Homo sapiens: one gene and its partner. The protein of the gene in region 1 purifies or fractionates together with the protein of each later gene. This does not show direct contact. Each region holds a gene or a part of one and is shown on either strand. Other genes may lie near its edges.

Region 1 (9,206 bases):
AACTAAATTATTCCCAACATCTACAGCAACGTCTACAGTAGATCATCTATAACTAATCTCCCATCGCACACTAGACTCACCTGAGGACCTGCCATGCCCCATATCAATTAAATCAGAATGTCTAGGGAAGAGCTGGGCATCAGTATTTGTTTAAAGATTCCCAGGGGATTCCACTGTACAGCAAAGTTTGGGAACCACTGACCTAATCAATTCCTATTTGTTAAGCACCTATGGTGTACCTGGGCATAAAGGGCCCTGTCCTCACAGAGGTCATGTGACCTGGCAATGGTGAAAAGAACTACAGAGTCTTAAAGCTGGAAGATCATCTGCCAAGCCAGCCTCTTGTTACAGACGAGGATGTGACATGCTCACAGTCACACAGTGAACTGTGCAGAGCCCTGATGGAAGCTAGAGCCCTCTACTCCCAGGCCAGTGCTCTGCCTGCCCTGCCATTCTCCCTCCTTTCTTTTTCTGCCCTCAAAGGACTCCAAAAATATCGACAATTCAGCCTGGCCACAGAAAAGCCATCTGTCAGCACTGCCAAACAAATTCTCCCCAATTCCAGCACCAAGTTACTCTCAGGCTCAGGGATGTCTGGGCTTCAGGCCATTCTCCAGATGTGCCACATACTACCTTTCTACAATGCTATGCGGTCTTCGAGAGCAGGGGGCATGCCTACTGCTCCTTTCCAAAGGCTCACAACCCCCCAGGGTAGCAGTGAATGGGCAGGGGCCGCCAAAGAGGACGTGTCAGCAGTGGCTTGACAAAGAGACAGCAAGGGTGACAAAGACCTCAGACCTGAGCTAGGGGTCAAGCTCAGAGCCTCTAGCCTGCACTTGACCAACAACAGGCTGGGTGACTTTTAGTCAAATCATACATCAAAATGGCCTACTGTATTTTCAATATTCCTAGAATATTTGTATGGATTTCAGAAGGTCTAGAGGAAATCCCCGAGAGCCCTGAAACTCCCAGCGGCATTCTAGGGAGGAGGTGCATTCTGGTCCCCTCAAAGCAGAAGCCGTATGTTCCTCAGAAGCATCCATGCCCAGCCCATGTTGGGGGCCCTGGCTTTGCATGAGGGATGCTCACATGCCTGCTGGGTGGTAGAGTGAGGAGCTGTTTGTTCCAGCTCATGCCTCCCATGTTCTCTCACATGCTGGAGGGTACAGTCATCCTCCCGTTCCACTCCATTACTCCCCCGAGGAATGGCTCAAATCTGGCCCTGAGTCTGGTTTTTGCATTATTGTCCATGCTCCAGTGACCTGTATTCTGTTAACTTTGCAGCTGTTACAAGCCATCCCTGTTGGGGTCGGCCAGGTGTATGGCTGTGACAATCCCTGGACAGGCGGCGTGTTCCTGGTGGCTCTGTTCATCTCCTCGCCACTCATCTGCTTGCATGCAGCCATTGGCTCAATCGTGGGGCTGCTAGCAGGTAGGACAGAGCTCCCTCTCTTCAGGTCCTCAGGATAATTCACTCAAGGTCACTTTTCCCCTACATACAGCAAATCTTCCAGACATTCTCTTCCCTGCAGTTTTAAATACTTTCAGGGAGACAGGCACGGTGACTTATGCCTGTAATCCCAGCACTTTGGGAGGCCGAGGCACATAGATGACCTGAACTCAGGGTGAAAACCCATCTCTACTAAAGAAAAAAAAGTACAAAAATTAGCTGGGTGTGGTGGTGGGCACCCATAATCCCAGCTACTTGGGGAGCTGAGGCAGGAGAATCACTTGAACCCAGGAGGTGGAGGTTGCAATGAGCCAAGATCGTACCACCTCACTCCAGCCTGGGAAATAGAGTGAGACTCCGTCTTAAAAAAAAAAAAAATACATGTGGAGAGATGCAAGGGGGTAAGAACCAAGTTGGCCTGCAAACTGAGCCCCTGGAGCTGAGGATGCTGGAGAGACACAGGGGTAGGGGCGGGAGCAGTAACCAAGACCAACTGTGATAAAATAAATGGCCCAGCACTCTGAAATTTTTGGTAAGATACAAAGAAAATTGTTCTCAAACATTGGATTGCCACTTAACAAATGTGCTTTAATATTGCTACCTGTGTATATGTATGTATACACATTTAAATAGGTATTTGCTCTTTCTGACAACAGAGTCAGAGATTGGGGTAGGAGCATTGGGAGTAGGAACCTGTTTTAGACTTCTTCTAATATTTTTCAAAGATTTTTTTGGAAGCAAAACTTTAAAAAGTATTTTTTATTTGGAAATAGTTTTAAACTCATCAAAAAATGGTAAAAATAAAAATATGAGGCATCTGTAAATTCTTTCCCCAGATGTACCCACTGTTCACATCTTACTCCTTCTGCTGTATCATTCCTCTATCTACATATATCCATAAGTGTATAGGGATATTTTTCCAGAGCACTTGAAACAACTTTTAAAAATATTTGTTTAACTCTTCAAACCTTTTTGGAAACTTTCTTGCTAAGACTGCAGTTGCTGTAGTCAAAGCAGTAAGAAGGGGCCTAGAATCCCACCTCCTTGCCTCTTCTCACCCAGGAGGACCTCCAAGTGAAGCCTGTGGCTTTGACAACTGGTTTGGAAACCACTGTTCTCTTTTCATTGAAGGTCTCCTAAGACCGGATGCCATTTGTAGAGGCTCTTTTGATGGGCAGGTTTGGAGATGTGGGGTGAACAACAGCATGGAGGCCACTCTGAGACCTGGCACCAGTCCCAGGGTGGTCTTTGTTCTGTGGCCCAGAATCAGACAGAAATACCACACCTTGTCCCATAGCCCTGTCAGTGGCCACACCCTTCGAGACCATCTACACAGGCCTCTGGAGCTACAACTGCGTCCTCTCCTGCATCGCCATCGGAGGCATGTTCTATGCCCTCACCTGGCAGACTCACCTGCTGGCCCTCATCTGTGGTAGGTGTTCAGAAAAGCTGACAACCAGGTTATTCTGGCTATTCCTTCCCCCCTTGTTTATGTGAAACCCATGGGGACCACTAATCAATACTGTTCAGCAGTGACAGAAAGGCCAATGGCTTGCGTCCTAATGCCAGTGCTGCCCTTAACAGCTGGGGATTTCAGGTCCCTTTTCTGTCAAATGGGATCACAACCACCGAATGGTATTATACTTACACAGTGTTGTAAAGTTTATAAGGAAATCACATATGCATTTCCTTGTGTGCTAATGACAGCATTCCTGCTCTCTATAACTCTTCATTCAACAACTGTTTATACAACACCATCAAGTGCCAGGACCTAGTCTAGGTATAGAAGATACCATGGTGACTACATCCTCATGAAGCCACAGCCTAGCAGGAGAGAAGTAATTGCACAAATAATTACTAAGGCTGCAGCGTCCACAAAGGTTGTTGGAATGATCCAGTGAGGTGATGTACCAGGAGCACTAAAAATCATAACCACATTATGGAAGCTCGATTTCCATAAACAGAGAATATGCTGCCAGAAGGGAAATCAGCCATAGTCCTTCTCATACACCTGTATCCCAGCACCATACCCTGTTATATAAATATACAAACTCACTTAATCCCCCCAAGAATACCACCAGGCATAGCCTGCCTGGCCCATTTTACAGATGAGGAAATGAGGCTCAGAGGGGCTAATTAACTTGCCCTAGAAGATAGCTATTAATGGCAAAAGGGAGAGTCAATCCCAGCCCCAGCTTGCCACCAGCTCTCCTCTCCTGGTATTGTTCTCTGGAAGCAGGACAGGACATTAATAAATAAAACTAGAGTCAAGGAAACAGAAGACTAGCGTCTGGAACAGCTTCTCTTTTGTTTTTTCCCACTTATGCTTGGAGACTGAGAATGACTTCCATATCCCTTGTATCCCCTCAGCAGCCAACATGAGGCTGGGCATGGAGACAGTGGACCTAGTAAATATTTGTCAAGTTAAAAGTGCCTGTTATTTTGAGGTTCAGACCGTAACTGCTTTTGGCCTTCAGAGAAGTGGCAGATTCCTGTGGCTGGAATCATCTGGGAAGCCTACAGGGGGAGGCTAGGGTTTATCTCAACACTTCTAGTAGGATCTGAGTTGACAAAGAGAGAGGGAAGAGGTGTTCCGGACAGAGAAGGAGAAAGAGCAAAGCTGCAGGCAGAAGGAGTTTGTCCAGAGGCACCAGCTACATGGACGAGCTTTCCTGACTGTCCTCAGGACCCAGCTCCCATGGGGGAACCCAGCTGCCTGGCTCCTGGGGACTGGTTCAGGGGTCTAGTAAGGTTCAGCCCTGGTGAGACTTGGTGAACATCAAGCAGCATCACAGCTGCTCACAGTCTTGAATAGGAGGGACCTTGGCAGGAGCTCGTATAGTCTGACCACTCTTCCCCTACAACAATCATCCAGCCTGTACTAGCTCTTCGCTACCATCAGCGTAGACTAGCATATGATGTGTATTGACCCCTGACTCCATGCAAGGCCACTATGGAAGCAGGGAGGGGACAAAAGGAAATATATGTTTTAATCTCTGCCCGAAGAATGAACAGTCTGGTGGGAGACTGGCCTCACCTGTCTACAGAGATAACAAATGCCAGGCAAGCATGCCAGCTGTCAGGGCATGGTGCAGAATCTGAGGCTGCAGGAGAGAGGGTGGGGCTCCTGTTCTTGGTCTGGGCTCCCTGGTCTGCAATGGCAGTGGCTTAGGGGGAAGGCCCTGGGAAGCTCACTCTGGTGATCCTTGTTCCTCCACAGCCCTGTTCTGTGCATACATGGAAGCAGCCATCTCCAACATCATGTCAGTGGTAAGTGTGGATTCTCCTGAACACTACCCCAAAGTGCTCTTCCCAGAGCTTCTGGACATATGGGGTTGTGGGGTCTGGGAAAGGAACATTGAGCGGGTAATGGTAGCTGGTGCTCACACGACATCTCTGTTAAGGTTTATCTAAGGTTGTCCGGAGGAGGATTGACAATTGCATACATGTACCTCTAGGAGAGGGAGGGGTGTGTGTGTGTGTTGAAAGATTGCAATGTAACTAGCAGTGGAAAACACGACGGACAGATGGAGCTGTGTGACTGGACATGGGGGAACATCCTCAGGCCAATTTTCAGCTCCATCATTGAAAGATTCTGATTGTGGCTCAAATTATCTGTTTTGTTTTTGTTTTCTTTGCAAGACAGGGTCTCGCACTGTTGCCCAGGCTGGAATGCAGTAGTGCAATCTTGGCTCACTGCAGCTCCAACCTCCCAGGACTCAAGCCATCCTCCCAGTTCAGCCTCCCAAGTAGCTGGGACTAGAGGCATGCACCATCATGCCCAGCTGTCTTTTGTATTTTTTTGGGTCTCACTTTGTTGCCAAGGCTGGTCTGGGCTCAAGTGATCCTCCCACCTTGGCCTCCCAAAGTGCTGGTATTACAGGCATGAGCCACTGCATCCAGCCCTAAATTCTTTGACCAACTACTGTGACATTGCAAATCCAGGAATATCAATGCCTTCACTGGAGGGAGGATCTCCATCCTCAACGCCTGTCACATCCTTCTCCCCCAGAGTCCCCAGCCCAACACAGGAAACTAGGAAACTTCTTCAGTCCCCAATGCTTTTGTTTCCAGGTGGGCGTGCCACCAGGCACCTGGGCCTTCTGCCTTGCCACCATCATCTTCCTGCTCCTGACGACAAACAACCCAGCCATCTTCAGACTCCCACTCAGCAAAGTCACCTACCCCGAGGCCAACCGCATCTACTACCTGACAGTGAAAAGCGGTGAAGAAGAGAAGGCCCCCAGCGGTGAATAGCCATGTTCGGGGAAGAAACGCTCTTTGCCTGACCTGATGTCCTCTCCCTGTGTTCTCTGCTCTGGTTCAATCAGTTGCAGCACTCACCTTCTTTGCCTCTCCTTGCACCTGTGTAGAACCAAGCACACCTGTAACTTTCTTTCCCTGAAGCTGATTTTCATTCTCTGCCAGAATCTCCATAACTATCTATTGTGCGACATTAAGGGATGTTGGTATTACAGTAAAATTTCCGGAGTTAGCAATAAGGTGTGTGTCTTAAATGTTGTTGACTTAAAACAAAAACAGTAGTCTTTTGGAAAGGTAATTAACAGGTGATCTTCTTGGCATCTTAAACTAAATAATAGATGCTATAAAATTAAACTTGTTGAGTGGTTCCTAGGCAGACACAGAGTAGGGGGGTAAGTCAGGGGACACAGGCTAGGAAGGGAAGGCTCTCTAGTGGCTGAGCTAGAGACTAATGACCACAAAGAGAGGAATTTCACACTGATGGGATTTTAAAGTCAAAACAGGGACGATTGGGGCAGGGAATTATCTAAATAAGGAGTCTTAACCATTCAGTGGTCTTTGTAAGGGGCAAGGCGATATTCCATAGCAGGGAGGAATTAATAAATTAGAATCCTATATATGACTTTATTATGGAGGATAAGCATTTCTTAGTTTAGGTCAAACCAGCATCTCTTTAAAATTTAATTTTTTTAATTTTAAGTTCTGGGATACATGTGCAGAACATGCAGGTTTGTTATATAGGTATATATGTGCCATGGTGGTTTGCTGCACCTATCAACCCGTCATCTAGGTTTTAAGCCCCACGTGCATTAGGTAGTTATCCTAGTGCTCTCCCTCCTCTTGCCTCCCATCCCCCAACAGGGCCCAGTGTGTGATGTTCCCCTCCCTGTGTCCACGTGTTCTCACTGTTCAACTCCCACTTATAAGTGAGAACATGTGGTGTTTGATTTTCTGTTCCTGTGTTAGTTTGCTGAGAATGATGGCTTCCAGCTTCATCCATGTCCCTGCAAAGGATATGAACTCATTCTTTTTATGGCTGCATAGTATTCCATGGTGTATATGTGCCACATTTTCTTCATCCAGTCTATCAAGACTTTGCTATTGTATACAGTGCTGTGATAAACATATGTGTGCTTGTGTCTTTACAATAGAATGATTTATAATCCTTTCAGTATATACCTAGTAATGGGATTGCTGGGACAAATCAAACCAGCATCTCTAAGCAGAGATTTCAGTTAAGGAAAGTACCTGAGTTCCATGTGTAAAAAGCTTGGGAAATTTACTTCATTCTTCTATTTGCTTGTGAGCATGGGAGGCTTTATGAAGTGTATGATATTTAAAACAAATAGGTAGCCCTGACTATAGAAAGACAATTATCTATGAATTTCATAATTTTGTTTCTCAACTATAGTCAATAGCTTTCATTTGGTCTTTTTAAATATATATATACATATACAAAGATATATATAGATCGGGGTCAGCAAACTTTTTCTGTAAAGAGCCAGATAGTAAATATTTTCTGCTGGGAGGCCATATATTCTCTTTGGCAAAGTCTTAACCCTGTCATTATAGCATAAAAGTAGCCATAGACAACGTGTAAATGAATGAGTATGGCTATGTGTCAATAAAACTTTATTAAACAAGCAGTGAGCTAGATTTGGTCCACAAGCTGTATTTTGCAGATCCCTGATAGAGACAGTCTACATACTAATGCTTACAAACTGGTGGGCGGTGCACAGGCCCAAACAGACACCACCAAGTCCCTTGCGACATAGCAAAGGGGTTTTACATGCTGGTGACAGCATGAAGACCCTCAGGAAATGGAGGATACCCAGAAAAGTGACAGTAGCATGACTGGAATCAGGAGGACCTGCTCTGGGGCTGCTGGAGAACTAGGATACCCAGTGATGTGCACTAAGGGGTGCAGTTTTAAACCAAGACCCGCCTTCTACATTGTCTGGGAACTATTTCTAAGGTTCACTCTTCTCCAACCTCTCACTCTGTTGTTCTCTCATCTGCCAGAAAGCACACCACTCTTGGACAAAGAAAAACTGATGACCCTTCAGTGCTGGAGTTTTCCAGGCAGGAAGGACAGGGAGGTTCAGAGAATCCCAACGTTTGAAGGGAGTGTGAAGATCAGGTGGTCCGATCCCATGATGCATGAAAACCTCTATAATATTAGGATAAGGGCTTCAGTTCTCTGCCGGGTTTCCAGAACAGATTCAATTACCCAAAATGGAGGCAAGGCTCCCAAAGTATTTTAACAACAGATAACCAGAACCAGAGACCCCACTCATTGCCCTAGAAAATCCCCTCCTGTCTTCATTAAGCTCTTTGAGGCTGTCCACCCAAAGCATTGGGTCTGATTGGGGACTGTCTTTTAGCCATGCTTACTGGATCCCCAGGAGAGGAAAACTATTTGGATATAAAAAATTATTTCAGCTGATTTGGACAAGATTATCGCTTTCTTTTCCCACCAACTCCCCCCATCTCCCCCACCCCTGCCAACTCTTCACCTCATCTCACGAGACTGGAGAGCTCCTGGAGTGATCTTGTCCCACCTTCCCCAGGGCTTCCCCACCTCATCTACCTGCTGAATGGGTAGGTAAAAGATCTCTAAACTTACAGATTCACAGCACCAACATGAGGTTGCATGGGGGCAGGCCATGATGAGAGAAGAAGAAGGGTTTGGGGACCCATATTCTGGCAGTTTTTCTACCATCACCCCAAACTACAAGCAACAGCTCTTGGCTGTACAAATGAGAGTGTCTATGTTGAACATAAATATGCAATCATTAAAGATGTGTCAGTTTGGAGAGAAAGGGACTTTAGAGGAGGCTGTGTCTCAAACTCTTTTCCTATCTCACCCATCTTCCACTCTCCCTCTCCCAGTCTCTGCCCTCCCCAACACTTTCTCCCATCTTTATCTCCTCTCATACAACACTGATGAATTCTATCAGCCATGACAGTCTTGTCCTGCTGCACTTTAAAATGGCAGATCTTAAATCATCTTTCCAGTTTCTTCCATAATTGACATAGTCAAGTTTTCTGCTTCATCTTGAGTCAAGCTTGAGCATTTGCTAAGATATAATCAATTTTCTTTAGCTTTAAATGTTTGTGGCCATAGAGTTACTTATAATGTTCTCATAAAACAATTTCAGTCTCTCCTGTATGCATGGTTTTATCCCCTTCTCATTTCTACTCTTACATAATTTTGTTATCTCTTTTCTTTAATCAGGTTTGCAAGGAGTTCGTTAATTTTATTGACTTTTTCAAAGAAGCGATTTTGGATTTATTTGTCCTTTCTACTTGTTTTGGTTTGTTTTCTATTGATTTATTTTTCCTGTTTTCTTAAGGTTTAAATGTTATTTTCTAATGTTTTAAAATTGATGTAGAATTCCTTCATTTTAGGTCTTTCTAACAACAAAGCCATTTACAGCTATTAATTTTCTCCTGAGTACAGCTTTAGCTGGATACTATAGGTTTTAGAATA
Region 2 (9,206 bases), on another chromosome or scaffold:
AAAAATACAGTGGACAGTTACCTTTCCATCAAAACACAGCATGGTAGAGACGGAAAGCCTGCCGTTGTCTGTTGCTGTCTAACAGCTGAGACAGGTATTCTGGTGATGCTACTGTGCTTCTTAGTTACCTGAACACATTATTTTTTTTAACTGTATTAATGGCATATCATATTTTTAACTGTTAAGTACATGTGTAAGTGTAAGAAAATGATTGCTTATCAGTAGTACATGAATTCAGAGTCAGGAATAATGGTGATGCCAAACAACCACAGATTGTCCACATGGGTGGCTGAGTTAGTGACACCTTTGCTTTCCAGTGGCTCCTCGTATATAAACTATTTCATGCACAGAATTATTACAAATATTGGATAAAATGACCTCTAGGCTATGAGCGTAAGGTGCATATGAAAGATAAATGAATTTCATATTTAGACTTGGTTCTCATCCCCAAGATATTTCATTATATATTTGCAAATATTCCAAAATCTGAAAAAAACCAAAACACTTCTGGTCTCAAGCATTTCAGTGAAGGGATATTCAATCTGTATGGCTAAATTCTACCAAAAGAAGAGATTACTTGTATTACACAAATAGCTAAAGGAGATAGAAAAAGATTAAATACTACCCAACTAACTTAATGATGTTAGTATAACCTTGATTCTAAAAGTGAAAAGGGTAGTACAAGAAAAGGAAAAGGGAAATCCATTTTATTTATAAACACAGATGGAAAAAATGTTAATAACCTAATTAAATCCAACATTGCATTGCATTTGTTTGTTTGTTTGTTTGTTTGTTTAGACACTGTCACTCTGTCACCCAGGCTGAGCGCAGTGGCATGATCTTGGCTCTCTGCAACCTCTGTCTCCCAGGTTCAAGCGATTCTCCTGCCCCAGCCTCTTGAGTAGCTGGGACTACAGGCACGTGCCACCACGCCTGGCTAATATTTTTGTATTTTTTAGTAAAGACAGGGTTTCACCATGTTGGCCAGGCTGGTCTTGAACTCCTGGCCTCAGGTGATCAGCCAGCTTTGGCCTCCCAAAGTGCTGGGATTACAGGTGTGAGCCACCACACCCGGCCCCAAGATTGCATTTAAAAGTACTGAATAAACAGGTTTTTATCTAGTAATTGACTTGAAAACTTAATAAGAGTTTAAAGAAAATACCTTTAGACTAGTTCCATCACAGTTCTAATTTTTAAAACATCTTCGGCTGGGCATGGTGGTTCACGCCTGTAATCCCAACACTTTAGGAGGCTGAGGCAGGTGGATCACCTGAGTCAGGAGTTCGAGACCAGCCTGGCCAACATGGTGAAACACCATCTCTACTAAAATTCCAAAAAATTAGCTGGGCGTGGTGGCACACACCTGTAATCCCAGCTAGTCTGGAGGCTGAGGCAGGAGAATCACTTGAACCTGGGAGGTGGAGGTTGTGGTGAGCTGAGATCACACCACTGCACTCCAGCCTGAATGACAGAGAGAGACTTTGTCTCAAAATAAATAAATAAGATAAAAATAAAACATCTTCATCAACCTCTGGTAATCTACAGAAAACTTAATGTTATCGTGAAATCAAATACAATAGCACTTATAGGATATGTCTCACAAAACAGATGCCGACATCAGTGGCTCAGACAGTTGTCCAGAAGGAAAGTGGCCTGCAGCACACCCGAAAGATGCTGCATGTTGGTGACCCAAGTGTGAAAAAGACAGCCATCTCGCTGCTGAGGAATCTGTCCCGGAATCTTTCTCTGCAGAATGAAATTGGTGAGTCGGTATAAGTATCTATGTGTAATATGTACATGCTGAAGATACAATGCAATGAAATGTTGTCTGTATCACCTCCCGTTCACAAAGATGCACTGGAAATGGGAGTAAGGAGTAGGTGATAAACCGGCCTGCCTTTTGTGCCACCAGATATCACAAACAGGCTTTCTCAGTGGATCTCACCAGAGATTTTTTTTAAATATCCAACATTTAAAAAAAAAATTACTACAAAAGAGAAATTTTAGAGCATACTAATAATTAACAAGATAAGTAATATTGTTGATATTTTTCACTGGGTGGCACCCTCAGTCACACCATCCAATGAAGTCTTTCTAATCCATATAGTTGTCTTTCAGAATGTTCTCTCTGTGGCTCTCTTAAGCACCACAATTCTAGAACATTTGAAAAACACATATAGTGGTGGTTTACTTTAGTAGTTTGGCAGTGTGTTGGACTATTAAAAAAATGGATAAACAGATAATCACAATAAAAAGACAAGGAGTCACTGAATATAGCAAATTTGGCATGGATTTTTTTTGAGTAACTGTGATGAGACATATTTTGCCTTTGACTGTATTATTGACAGAGATGATAACGGTACTTTTTTATTTGTTTGCTTATACCAAGAAGTATGTGATAAATGTTTGTTGTATCTAGTAGAAAATTACAAAATGAGATGATAGAAAGATAATGCTAAAATTAAACATGCTTCATAATGCTCTGTAATCGGTCGTTTCTAACAACTCAAATTCGGTTTTTCACATTTCACAAAAATTATAAACAATATTTTGCCTGTTTTAATGGATTAGATTTTTAAATATGCACATATATAGCCCCAGAGATATTAAAGGCTGCAGTTATGTTTTAGTAATGTCATTTTCAAAGCCAGCCAGCAGCACATTTGACAGGAGGTTTTATGCAATGGCTTCATGCTCATTCTAAGTAGAGATAAGCCTGGAACATTCTCAGTGAATCTGAAAGAGACCTCGCCATAGGCACTCTCAGAATTATTAAAATGCTCTCCCCATGGTCTTTTGTGCTGAACTTCAATGGCAGTGTATTATCCTTTCCCTTTTTTGTTCTTTTCCCAAATGAAAAATTGACTCCATCTTTAAAACACCACCAAGGTAAATAACAGCACTATACACATTAAGCATGTACCTTCAGGGCAGAAATGCTGTTGGCCTCAGGTTCTGCAGTCCCCTAAATGTCGGGAAGGTATAGCTGTAGCCACATGGTTTATATTAGAGGATTCTGTTGATAAACTTCACTTTAAGGATAACAGAGAAAAGAGGCTTCAGCAAGATAAATGCTATTTTAAAATTCCAGATTGGCTTCATGTCAAATATATAAGTAAAAGGACTTCTCTTAATTCAGAATTTTAATAGCAAGAAATAAGTGAAAGTCAGCTTGAACACATGCTTTGTGTTTCTCATGAGAGCTTTCTAAGCCAGGTAACTTTCCCTGTTCTCACCTGCAATAAAGTTGTTATGTTTTACTTACATCTAGAGAAATAAACTTGAAACTTACATTTTCTCAAAAACTTAAAGACAGGCAATGGAGCATGGTAACAGAATAACAGATTTCACACAGAAAACATGGGTTTGTATCTCACAGTGCTATTTTGCCAGTCAAGGCCTTTCATTCTGTAGTTTAACTTACTAAAAGGAGGGAGACTTCTGATAATAGCATCCACTGAGAGCTTACCACATGCGCAGTACTGCAATACAATTAACATGCATTGACTCGTTCCCTCAGAACAACCCTGTGACGTAGACATTATTATCCCACATTGCAACTTAGGGAAAAACAAATAGAGACATTAAGTAGCTTGCTCAGGCCATAGAGCTGTAAAGTAGCAGAACCAGGACTGAAACTACAGCACTCTGGCTTTAGATGAACGCTGAGCTCTCCACAGTATGCTGTGTGCTTGAACCACAGTCAAAAGGAAAGTGTTCAGGCCTGTGAGCAAAAGGTATGTCTTACCTGTCAATCAGGTCCAGGTATTATGATGACATATCATTCAGTGCCTTTTATTGAGTACTTGTCCATTTCAGGAATAATGATCAACGCTGTAAACACAGAAATAAGTAAGATAATTGGCTTCAAGGAACCCACAGCCTCATCTGAAGTTGAGACAGTCACACAATTCATTACTATCAGTATCATAGAGAGAGAAATGTGCTTCAAGATGCCACATGAACACAGATGAAGGCACACAATAAAATTAGGCAGTATTTGTTAATTGCTGATAAACACAACACGTATTCAGAAGCTGTGGGGATCAGCAAAAGCAAAAGATGCATGCTCTCTATCTTTTAAGAAGAGTCTAAAGTGGTTAGAGGAAAAAGAGGAAAACATACATGAAAATAACTATTACAAAAAGTTTAAGCACAAGTTCACATTGACCAAAATATGTACCATAGGACAAGTTCCAGTGGATTTATCAAATATTAACACCTTTTAAGAATTTTCAATAGATTTTTGGGTACAGGTGGTGTTCAGTTACATGCAAAAGTTATTTAGTGATTATTTCTGAAATGTTGGTGCACATGTCACCTGAGCAGTGTACACTGTACCCAATGTGTAGTCTTTTATCCCTCACCCCTTCCTACCTTTCCCCCAAGTCCCCAAAATCCATTATATAACTCTTGTTCCTTTGCATCCTCATAGCTTAGCTCTCACTTATAAGTGAGAACATCCAATATTTGGTTTTCCATTCCTGAGTTATTTCACTTAGAATAGTGGTCTCTAATTCCATCCAATTTGCCGCAAAGGCCATTATGTCTTTCTTTTTAATGGCTGAGTAGTATTCCATGGTGTGTATATACCACATTTCCTGTATCCACTCGTTGGTTGATGGGCATTTAGGTTGGCTCCATATTTTGCAATTGTGAATTGTGCTGCTATAAACATGCATGTACAAGTGTCTTTTTCATATAATGACTTCTTTTCCTTTGGGTAGATACCCAGTAGTGGTATTGCTGGATCAAATGGTAGTTCTACTTTTAGTTCTTTAAGGAATCTCTATACTGTTTTCCATAGTGGTTGTACTAGTTTACATTCCCACCAGCAGTGTAGAAGTGTTCCCTTTTCACCATATCCATGCCAACATCTATTAAATTTTGATTTTTAAATTATGGTCATTCTTGCAGGAGTAAGGTGGTATCTCATTGTGCTTTTAATTTGCATTTCCATGATAATTAGTGATGTTGAGCATTTTTTCATATGTATGAGGCGTATCAAAAAATTTTTCTTATGCCATTTGTATATCTTCTTTTGAGAATTGTCTATTCATGTCCTTAGCCCACTTTTTGATGGAATTATTTGGCTTTTTTCTTGCTTTTTTGAGATCCTTGTAGATTCTGGATATTAGTCCTTTGTCGAATGCAGTTTGTGAATATTTTCTCCCACTCTGTGGGGTGTCTGTTTACTCTGCTGATTATTTATTTTGCTGTGCAGAAGCTTTTTAGTTTAATTGGATCCCATTTACTTATTTTTGGTTTTGTTGCATTTGCTTTTGGGTTCTTGGTCATGAACTCTTTGCCTAAGCCAATGTCTAGAAGAGTTTTTCCAGTGTTATCTTCTAGAATTTTTATGGTTTCAGGTCTCAGATTTAATCTTTGATCCATCTTGAGTTGATTTTTGTATAAAGTGAGAGATGAGGATCCAGCTTTATTCTTTTACATGTGGCTTGCCAATTATCCCAGCATCATTTGTTGAATATGTTGAATAGGGTGGCCTTTCCCCACTTAATGTTTTTGTTTGCTTTGTCAAAGATCAGTTGGCTGTAAGTATTTTGCTTTATTTCTGGGTTTTCTATTCTATTCCATTGGTCTATGTATCTTTTTTATTTTCTATAGCCTAATTGTGAAAGTGGCATGTCTATTTTTTTAATACCTTTCTTGTTAGTACAAAAAAAAAAAGCCAAACTCAAAACTTATAACCAAGAAGTTATATACATAGTAGAAAAGTACATTTAAAATAGTTTATTTCTCTTTTTAAAATAGTAGGCCAGGCGCAGTGGCTCACGCCTGTAATCCCAGCAGTTTGGGAGGCTGAGGCGGGCAGATCACCTGAGGTCAGGAGTTCGAGACCAGCCTCAACATGGAGAAACCCCATCTCTACTGAAAAAAAAAATATACAAAAAATTAGCCGGGCATGGTGGTGCGTACCTGTAATCCTAGCTACTCGGGAGGCTGAGGCAGGAGAATTGCTTGAACCTGGGAGGCGGAGGTTGCAGTGAGATGAGATCGTGCCATTGCACTCCAGCCTGGGCAACAAGAGCGAAACTCCATCTCCAAAAAAAAAAAAAAAACAAGAGTAGTATTACTTATGTATTGGAAAAACCTTGGGAAGCAAAGATTATTCGTTTATTATTTATTTACTATTTAATTTTACTTTTTAAAATAGAGACGGGGTCTCATTATATTTTCCAGACTGGTCTCAAACTCCTGGGCTCAAGTGATCCTCCTGTCTCGGCCTTCTAAAGTGCTGGGATTACAGACATGAGCTACCTTGCCTGGCCTTAAAAATGATTTTAGCTTGGCCAGGCGCGGTAGCTCACGCTTCTAATCCCAGCACTTTGGGAGGCCCAGGCGGGCGGATCACAAGATCAGGAGATCAAGATCATCCTGGCTAACAAGGTGAAACCCCGTCTCTACTAAAAATACAAAAAAATTAGCCCGGCGTGGTGGCGGGCACCTGTAATCCCAGCTACTCGGGAGGCTGAGGCAGGAGAATGGCATGAACCCGGGAGGCGGAGCTTGCAGAGAGCCGAGATCGCGCCACTGCACTCCAGCCTGGGTGACAGAGCAAGACTCTGTTTCAAAAAAAAAAAAAGATTTTAGTTCACTATTAATATTGTTGTAGAAAAACAGCTCCTATTAACATTTTTCCTCAGGTTTCTTACGTGGGTTTTTTGGTAATAGTATGTATTCTTTTTTTTTTTTTTTTTGAGACAGGGTCTCTCTCTGTTGCCCAGGCTGGAGAATAGTGGCGTGATCTCTGCCCACTGCCACTTCTGCCTCCCAAGCTCAAGCAATTCTTGTGCCTCAGCCTCCTGAGTAGCAGGGACTACAGGCACAGGCATGTGCCACTACGCCCAGCTAATTTTTGTATTTTTAATAGAGACAGGGTTTCACCATGTTGGCCAGGCTGGTCCTGAACTCCTGACCTTAAGTGATCCACCCACCTCAGCCTCCCAAAGTGCTGGGATTACAGGTGTGAGCCACCGAACCTGGCCAATAATATTATGTATTATTTATATAAATATACTGATTTTTCACATACACTATTAACATAATTATTTTCTTTTTATTATACATGCTTCATAGATAGGTTTTGTGATGAATAATAGTCTTTGCAGGTGTGTTTTAGTTAATCATAGTCCTATTATAAGGATATTCAGGCTTTTTAGTTTTTCAGTTACATGTAGTACTGTCATAAAGATCTCTGTAGAAAGCTTTTTTCATTTTCAAAGTGATATTTTTAAGATGTATTCCTAGACATGGAATTACCGAATTGAAGAAGATGAAAATGTTTTAAGTTCTTGACATTTCTGCCAAATTACACTCTGAAAAGATTTTCAATATACTGAGCACAGAGTATCCTCTTTTCAAATATTTTTAAAAATTTGTTATTAGGGAAATTACATCTTTCCATGTGTTGTTAACCAGCTGTGTTTCTTTTTAAGAAAGTTCTTGGCCGGGCGCAGTGTCTCACGCCTGTAATCCCAGCACTTTGGGAGGCCGAGGCTGGCGGATCACGAGGTCAGGAGATCGAGACCATCCTGGCTAACACGGTGAAACTCCGTCTCTACTGAAAATAAAAAAAAATAAAAAAATAAAAAAATTAGCCAGGCGTGGTGGCGGGTGCCTGTAGTCCCAACTACTCGGGAGGCTGAGGCAAGAGAATGGCGTGAACCCGGGAGGCAGAGCTTGCAGTGAGCCAAGATGGTGCCACTGCACTCCAGCCTGGGCAACAGAGCAAGATTCCGTCTCAAAAAAAGAAAAAGAATGTTCTTCACCCAAAATATATTGGGATCTTGGGATTAAGAAACAATCTTTTTAATCAAGTGTTTTGTTTTTTTTTTCATTTTGTAGCCAAAGAAACTCTCCCTGATTTGGTTTCCATCATTCCTGACACAGTCCCGAGTACTGACCTTCTCATTGAAACTACAGCCTCTGCCTGTTACACATTGAACAACATAATCCAAAACAGTTACCAGAATGCACGCGACCTTCTAAACACCGGGGGCATCCAGAAAATTATGGCCATTAGTGCAGGCGATGCGTAAGTCCTTCAGTTCTGCCCGTCAGCTGCCTCCCTTTCCCCTCACCAGCCTGTGTGTAAATAATCCGGTTGTGAATGTGCGGTCATGACCATCATGTGCAACATGGCAGCAAACAGGATGTAAAGCCAGGCCAGATCATCTGGTCAGCCCTCAGTGATCAGCCAAGGAAAGAACTGAATCCACCACACCACATGCTTGTCCCTTCTCTTCTAAAGTATCAACAGAGGGTCAGACTCCAGAACTTCTCTTGGTTGTGCATTCCAGCATTGTATTGGCCTAATGAATTAGTTTCCCAAAGCCACAGCTGTGATTTAATAACAGCAGAATGTAGGCAAAGCAGGAGTCCTCTGAATAGGCAAGTGCCCTTTTCCTCACTTCCATCTTAGGAGGGGATGTCACACCAGGTGGTTTAGAAGAAGCAGTGATGGGCTGGGCACAGTGGCTCATGCCTGTAATCCCAGCACTTTGGGAGGCCCAAGCAGATGGATCACTTGAGGTCAGAAGTTCGAGACCAGCCTGGCCGACATGGCAAAACCCTGTCTCTAGTAAAAATACAAAAATTAGCTGGGTGTGGTGGTGCGTGTCTGTAATTCTAGCTACTTGGAAGACTGAGGTTTGAGAATCACTTGAGCCCAGGAGGCAGAGGTTGCAATGAGCCGTGATCGTGCCACTGCACTCCAGCCTGGTTGACAGAGTGAGATTCTGTCTCAAAAAAGAAAAAAAAAAAAAAGCAGCAGCAGCAGTGATGACACAGGAGAAGCAGTCAGGGGGTAGCCTGATGAGAAAGTCTTGCTTTCACAGTTTTTTCTCTGTCTTATCTCTTCCGCATCTTATTCCCTTTTGATAATAGAAGGTCCAATGCATGTCATTCCACATCTGTGTTCCTGTTTTCAACTTTTCCCTATTAAAAAAAAAAAGGAGGAGAATGAAAAACCTTGTATAACCAAATTATTTACTATTAGTTAATTTAGAGTGATGAGATTGGAAAGGGGCATGAAGATTATCTTTTTCTCTTTATACAATTCTGAATTGTTTGACTTATTACAAATAGATATGTTACTTTTGTAAATAACCAAACAAGAAAAGAAATGGCTATGATAGCCTAGTTTTAATGAGTTACAAAGCAGATGACTTCACCTGTACTGAAGA

Evidence for each region.
Region 2: the proteins of SLC14A2 (region 1) and PKP2 purify together in Homo sapiens (affinity purification with mass spectrometry; 2 studies listed by BioGRID and IntAct, with this or other methods). This does not show direct contact.

What each region holds. Positions count from the first base shown.
Region 1 is NC_000018.10:45,638,462-45,647,667, forward strand, and holds part of SLC14A2 (urea transporter 2), read left to right. Parts: intron 1-1,284; coding exon 1,285-1,432; intron 1,433-2,747; coding exon 2,748-2,882; intron 2,883-4,670; coding exon 4,671-4,720; intron 4,721-5,524; coding exon 5,525-5,699; intron 5,700-9,206.
Region 2 is NC_000012.12:32,794,959-32,804,164, reverse strand, and holds part of PKP2 (plakophilin-2), read left to right. Parts: intron 1-1,608; coding exon 1,609-1,762; intron 1,763-7,866; coding exon 7,867-8,056; intron 8,057-9,206. UniProt on the Homo sapiens protein: A component of desmosome cell-cell junctions which are required for positive regulation of cellular adhesion.